Homo sapiens: one gene and its partner. The protein of the gene in region 2 purifies or fractionates together with the protein of the main gene of each other region. This does not show direct contact. Each region holds a gene or a part of one and is shown on either strand. Other genes may lie near its edges.

Region 1 (3,651 bases), on a different chromosome or scaffold from region 2:
ATTTCTGAACTAGCATTTAAAAAATAAAGGATGCTACAGTGTTAAAAGGAAAAAAGTCACAGTGCTTGCCTGCAACCACACAAAAATATATCTGCACAGGAATTCTTTAAAAAGTCAGTCTTTTGAGTGAGTGAATCACTTTTGAGATTGCTGCCCAATTTAATAGGAATGCGTTACTGCTTCCGTTAAAAGAGTTAATCCTCGGGGTGCAGCCGCAGCTGCGGCCTCAGCACAGCCACAATGCTCCCAGCCGCGCCGCAGACAATCGTGGCCCGCCGCCCCTCTACGGGCTCCCCACTCACTCAACTCCCTTCCCTTCTAAACAAAAATAAGAAGACAAATATTTAGAAGTTGAAGCAATTATAGCCCAGTGGGGAGACAGACAAAAAGGAATGAGGAAGTCTCTGCTCTAAGTCTATTTTGGCAACGATCTCATTAAAATCTGGTCAAAAACACCCACGTGCCTGGCTCCCAGTCTGGCTGCGGAGGAGCAGGACTCCACCCTCTGCGCTCTCCTCCTCCACGAGAAACTTTTACCTTTCTCCAGCTTCTGGGAATCCGGGCAAGGAAGACATCTGGTTGCATCCGCAGAGGCGTGGGAGGGAGGCGGGCCCAGCCTGGCGGTGCTGCGCGGGGTCACAGACTCTCTGGGCCCTGGCCCCGGCCCGGGGGATGGTGCGGCCCCTGCTGCCATGGGCTCCAGCTGCACGGCAGGCGGCCTTTGGCTGCCATCCAGGCGCGGCCTCTTTTTCGCAGGGCATTCTCCAGGCTCTGAGCAGGCCGAGGGCTCAGGGGCTGGGGGCGCAGTGAGGCTGCCCAACGGCAGACCGGGGTCGTGTCCCTCAGCGTTGGCACAGGGATCGTCCTCCCTGACCCCGGAGGGCAAGGACGGGGCTGCCCAGCTGCCTCCTTTGCTCCCCATGTCTCTCTCCGTGTCGTCCTCTGAAAGGGAAGATCCATTCAGGCACAAGCTAGCCTTCTGCGCTGAGTTTCCTCCCCTCTTACTTGCAAGAGTCCAATTTTTGTGGTGGATTCTGGACCCACTCTCATCTTGGGCACCACCTCCAGCTGGGAGGACCAACGGGCCTCTTGGGTTTTCACTTTTCCTGAGCCCCTTCTTGTGGTCCACTTTGCACTCGGGGTCCTTTTCACAAGTGAACGAACTTGACAGGCTTTGTTGCACACATGGCCTCCTCCTGTGAGGTCTGGAACTGCCCAACACGTCTCCGCGGGGAAGAGATGAGGAGTTCGAATCACAGGGCGAGGAGACATGCTCCATGGGCTTCCCTCGCAGAGACCGGTCAGCTCTACCTGTCCCTGCAGAGCTTTCTTGACTCCAAATCGAGCCCTCGCTCAGAACGTCCAGAGCCACGCGAAGCGACCGTCTGTAGGCCAGTTCTTCCAGGGGTGCCGCAGGAACCTCATTCTGTGAGGCTGCAAGGACCGAACATACACAATGCCGGTTACGTTCACTGCACAGGCACTGCGGTCACGGCATCGCTTTAGAAGCTCGCTTGTCTCATTCTGACGGCTAGTTTCATACCTAAATCACTGAAGGGGAGGACTAACATTTCTCACCTACATTTTCCCAAAAAGGAGACGAGGCTACAGAACGACAGCTATTCATTCCGGGATTCGAGGCTTCATTTTTTTAAAAACCAAATTTATTGACCTTAACCTGATTGGCTAAAAAGATAAATTCCTCCAAGTTACAAAACAATACCGTGAGCAAAATGTATTCAAATGTTTTGCAAATCCTCTCTCAGCCTTACAATTTCAAATTCAATCAGGGTCAATAAAAACCAATGCCAACTAAATAAAGAACTCTGCTGGCAACGTATTCTTGGTTGGTGCAGGGGTTGGTGGTAGCAAGGAAAAGGAGATTTAAAAGACTCATTGTGGGCTGGTAAATTTTCAATACTTCTTTGCAAGGGCATTTCAAAGCCAGCAAAGAGCATCGTGGGCCTCTGGTTTCCAGCCCAACCTCCCTGCTGCAGCACTTTTATTTATTCATTCCGACATATAGATACGGCGCTATTTATTTGAACAAGATGATGGATGTAATATCACAACTCAGCGGGCATAATGCCTCAATCAGAACAGTATTCTCCCCTTTGAATATTAAAGGCGCCCACAAACAACCAGCCCCCCAACACAATCTGCGCCAACAAGGACGACGCCATCCAAGATGATGGTCAGCCCGGCCTAAGTTATGCAGAGATGGATCCTGCTTTAAACAAGAGCTGTTTTTCGGAAGACACAGGAAAATAGACCTGATTTTATAAACATCATTGGAAGGAATTCCGGTCCATCTTTTCACAAGAGAAACAATTATTTGCAAATGGGATAAACAGTTCCACTTTGAGAAGGAAGGCTGGCAGGTTTGGGTTTGCACAACTGTGGCTAGGGGGCAGGCAGTCACCAGTGCTCCTCACTTGTCATGTATGTGCATGACCAGTCCCCGGCTGGACTCAGGCAAAGCTTTTCTCACCCACAGTGTGCAAAGGAGGTGGGTGCTAAACTGAAGGCCTGGGAGAAAGCGCACCCGGATGGATGGGAAGCCGAGAGCTCCACTTCCGACCTGCCTCGTGCCCCCCATGACAGTGCCTCAAACAATGGGTGCCACCAACCCCAGTGCCAGGCCACCCGTTCTCTCCCTTGGGCTCTGCTCTGGAATTTTAAACACACAACCAACTGCTTCTCAAACCTTGGGCTGAGACCAGACTGGCCAGGCAGCGACAGTACCACAGCAAATCTTACTATAGGAAGAGGAAAGGAAAAAGGAGGACCTCCCCCCTTATGGCAGCAAAGTCCTTCCTCGTCTTGTGTACTGGAGGCCACGGGGGTACGAGATGACCTTGATGCTCACCACTGACCATTCTGGGCGTCAAGAATAGGAGTGGTTCTAGGGGCAAATTCTGGAAAGGTTTAAGAAAGCGGATCCATTTTTCCTTCTCCTTCAGCTCAGGGGATTCGCGTTCCCTTGTATGAAGAAAAACATGGTGAACAGGGTGAATTTTTACCCAGAAAGCTGAGCCTTCACATTCTCCCAAATGACCTCTTATTTTATGAAAACCTAGTGGCCACTTAAAAATACGCTCTTACCTAACGAGGAAGCAATGGCTTCAATTTGAGACTTCTCTAGGATCTCAACTTCAGTGCTTTTCACCTTAATTCTGCAGAGACAAAATCGACGTTACACACCACCAGCCAACGCCGCCAAGACATTTTCAAACATGTTTTCCTTTAGATAACAAAAGAATTATTTTCATTTTCCTCCTCAACCTTCCACTTAAACCAAAAGTCACAGCCAACTAGGAATTCATCTGCCTGAGGTTACAGGCAGCAAGAACCCTGGTGAATGGTTTTTTTTTTTTTTTCCTTTTAAGACAGAAAAGGTTGGCTGGATTTAAAAGCAAAAATGAATTCAAATTGTGACTTTTATGAAGCAAATCCTACTTTCAACTGCACAAATCACTCCTTTGTTAGATTTTCAGAGTAGATGGTAATGTCACTAAAAGCTGTTTACAGCCCAGCAGGTGTGTTTTGGTTTAAAAGGATGTGCTTTCCTTTTAAACTCGAGTATTCAATTACCTTCCCAGCCGCAGGGAAAGTGTGAGCTAGGGACCAAGCGAGCTTCAGAGGCAGCTC
Region 2 (3,651 bases):
AGGGGGAGTAAAGATGAATGAACAAAATTGATCAGTGGCTCTCAAATCAGGGTGCTTTTCTCCCCAGGGAATATTTGGCAATGTCTGAAGATGTTTTTGGTTGTCTTAACTAGGGGAATGCTACTGGCATCTAGTGGGTAGAAGCCAGGGATGTTGTTAAATATCCTACTCTGCACAGGGCAACCCCCTCACAACAAATAATTATCCAACCCAAAATGTTATTTGTGCTGACACTGAGAAAACCTGAACTACATTTTAGAATCTCCCTTCTTCAAAATCTAATAAAACAAAAAATAAAAACAAAAAATAAAACAAAAAGGCCAACATTTTATTAGCAGCAACCAAATATAAAAGGGCCTGCCATAAATTTTGAAGACTGATAGTCAAAATAAGAAACAAAGTTATATGTGATTGATGGTCATTCCCAACTCTACCCCTACCTCCAATAAGAGGTTGTAGGGAAATAGTTTACAAAATCCTAAACACTTACCAGAAATACACTCCAAAATGACAAAAAGTAGAGCCGAGGAATGAATAAGCAACACAAGGAAAAGTCAACAAAAAAATTTCAAGAGTGAGTTTTAACCATCTCTTTGCTTTGGGAAGGAGAAGGTCAGGTCACATTCTAGGGCTCAGAACAAAGAGAAATGAGAGCTCTGAGGTCGAATGATGTCCCCATACAAGGCAAAGGAATTTTATTCATAAGCAGTTGGGCAGACCCAAGAGTGAAATACTTGGTACTTCAAGAGAGCAGAGCCTAAAAGCCACATTGCCCCATTTGGCTCTCTGAATCACCACTTTTCCCTTCTCTTTCCCTCCACTCCAACAATATACAGCTTTCAAACTAGGGCTCAGGAGAAAAACAAACTTGGGTAAGGAGAGTGGAGTATTAAAAATATTTCCCATCAGCACCACATAGAAGTTCTCCCACATCAAGAAGAAACATGTATGCATATGTATTACAGCCTGACAAAAAGAAACACGCACATACAGGGAATAAAAAGCAAGAAAGAACACAAAATGAAGAAATGAATAGGGCACACAAGTGGCAAAGAACCCATTCTGGAAGGATACATAACCCAATAAAAACTAAAGAAAATTCTCAACAACTTCATCATAATGAAGAACTTGAAAACAATACAACCTTATAATAAACAAGCTCAAAAGCAAGAAGAAGCAGAATAAGATGAAAATGCGTTTGTAGCGCTAAAGAAACTTAGAGCCTATATAACACAATGACTTAACCAATTAATTCATTTAAAATATCAAAAACAGGACAGACACTGGAGAAAACAGAATTATTGACAAAAAGAAAGGCTTCAGATGATCACAGTAAATGCAAAGGTAAAAGACAAATCAAAGCAATTAGAATACATACGAACAACAAAAGAAAATTCAGTATTAAAAAAACTGGTGTCATGAAGTAGAGGATCTAATAATTTGACCAAAAAAAAGTATTCATGGTAATAAACAAGGAAAATGTTCTTAGAAGAACTAAGGGCATACTATAATTTAGGGAAAAATGATTATAAGTGACACTTAGATATACCTTGTTTATATTACTGAATTTCAAAAATAAAGAAGAAAACTCTCAGGCATTTTAGATTAAAAAAAAAAATTGCCTTCAAGGAGGTAGGGAGAAAAATCAGACTTTTCTACAGTAACACTAGATGTCCCAAAATAATAAAACAGGGACCACAAAGTTCTAATGAAAGTGTTCCCAAACAAGTTATTTTTCAGGAACGAAAGCAATAGACAGACATTCTCAAGCATTAAAGAAAACAGCAAGCATTGAAACTCAGAGACTATAATACTCACAAATTCTTCCTAATAAAAAGAGAAAACATTGGACAAAGAAATCCAGCCAATCAAACACTAGGAGATTATGGAACAACATTTACAAAGTTGAGGGGGAATAAAGTGTGACTGATAAATTTTATACCTAGCCAAGTAATCCTTCAAGTAATATAAAAACAAAAGACAAATATTTTGAATCAATGAAGTGTATAAGAACCCAAAGAATGCATGCAGTACCTGTAACTTGAAAAGACTGCCTGACAATGAAATTCAATCAGGAGATGGACTAACTCGGGAATGGAGAAGCAACAGTACTGGTAATAAGCACCAAAACTATTAAAACATAGAACTAAAAGAATTATGACAGAACCATGACAACATAAAGAATATGATCAACATGAAACTAGGCCAATTAATATCCTACAATGGCCTGTAAGTGTTCAAGTGAAAGGAACAGTCACCTGTTTCTCACTTTAAATCAAGAGCTAGAAATGATTATGCTTAGTGAGGAAGTTATGTTGAAAGCCAAGATACGCCAAAAGCTAGGTCTCTTGAGCCAGTTAGCTAAGTTGTGAATGCAAAGGAAAAGTTCTTGAAGGAAATTAAAAGTGCTACTCCAGTAAACACACAAATGATAATAAAACAGCCTTATTGCTGATATGAAGTGGTCTGGATAGATGATCAAACAAGCCACAATGTTCCCTTAAGCCAAAGCCTAATTCAGAGCAACCCTAACTCTCTTCAGTTCTATGAAGGCTGAGAGAGGTGAGGAAGCTAGAGAAGAAAAGTTGGAAGGTAGCAGAGGTTGGTTCACAAGATTTAAAGAAAGAAGCCATCTCCATAACATAAAAGTGCAAGGGAAAGCAGCAAATGCTGATATAGAAGCTGTAGTAAACTACCTAGAAGATGTAGCTAACATCATTCATGAAAGTAGCTACACTAAGCAACAGACTTATTTTTTATTTATTTATTTATTTATTTTGAGATGGAGTCTCGCTCTGTCACCCAGGCTGGAGTGCAATGTGCAATCTCAGCTCACTGCCACCTCCGTCTCCCGGGTTCAAGCCATTCTCCTACCTCAGCCTCCCAAGTAACTGGGATTACAGGCTCCCACCACCAAGCCAGGCTAATTTTTGGTATTTTTAGCTGAGATGGGGTTTCACTATGTTGGCCAGGCTGGTCTTGAACTCCTGAACTCGTGAACTGCCCACCTCGGCCTCCCAAAGTGCTGAGATTACAGGCATGAGCCACCGAGCCCGGCCAGCAACAGATTTTTAATGGAGATGAAATGGCCTCCTTTTGGAAGAAGATGCCATTTAGGACTTTCATAGCTATAGAGAAGTCAATGCCTGGCTTCAAAGATTCAAAGGACAGGCTGACTCTCTTGTTAGAGGCTAAAGCAGCTGGTGACTTCAAGTTGAAGCCAATAATCATTTACTATCCTAAAAATTCTAGGGCCATTAAGAATTATGCTAAATCTCCTCTGCCTGTTTTCTATAAATAATAAAGCCTAGATGACAGCACATCTGTTTACAGCACGGTTTAGTTTAAGCCCACCATTGAGATCTACTGCTTAGAAAAGAAAAGATTCCTTCAAAATATTATTGCTCATTGACAACGCACCTGATCACCCAAGAGCTGTGATGGAGATGTACAAGATTAATGTTGTTTTCATGCCTGCTAACACAACATCCATTCTGCAGCCCACTGATCAAGGAGTAACTTTGACTTTTAAGTCTTATTTAAGAAATATATTTCATAAGGCTATAGCTACCATAGACAGTGATTCCTCTGATGGATCTGGGCAAAGTAAATTGAAAACCTTCTGGAAAGGATTCATCATTCTAGATGCCA

The links. Proteins that work in one complex are often made in the same cells at the same time.
Region 1: the proteins of ZNG1A (region 2) and PWWP3A purify together in Homo sapiens (affinity purification with mass spectrometry; 2 studies listed by BioGRID and IntAct, with this or other methods). This does not show direct contact.

What each region holds. Positions count from the first base shown.
Region 1 is NC_000019.10:1,357,919-1,361,569, reverse strand, and holds part of PWWP3A (PWWP domain-containing DNA repair factor 3A), read right to left. Parts: exon of another isoform or gene 3,595-3,651; intron 3,177-3,594; coding exon 3,106-3,176; intron 2,983-3,105; coding exon of another isoform or gene 2,960-2,982; exon of another isoform or gene 2,919-2,959; coding exon of another isoform or gene 2,866-2,918; exon of another isoform or gene 1,643-2,865; intron 1,435-1,642; coding exon 538-1,434; intron 1-537. UniProt on the Homo sapiens protein: Involved in the DNA damage response pathway by contributing to the maintenance of chromatin architecture.
Region 2 is NC_000009.12:165,493-169,143, forward strand, and holds part of ZNG1A (zinc-regulated GTPase metalloprotein activator 1A), read right to left. Parts: intron 1-3,651. UniProt on the Homo sapiens protein: Zinc chaperone that directly transfers zinc cofactor to target metalloproteins, thereby activating them.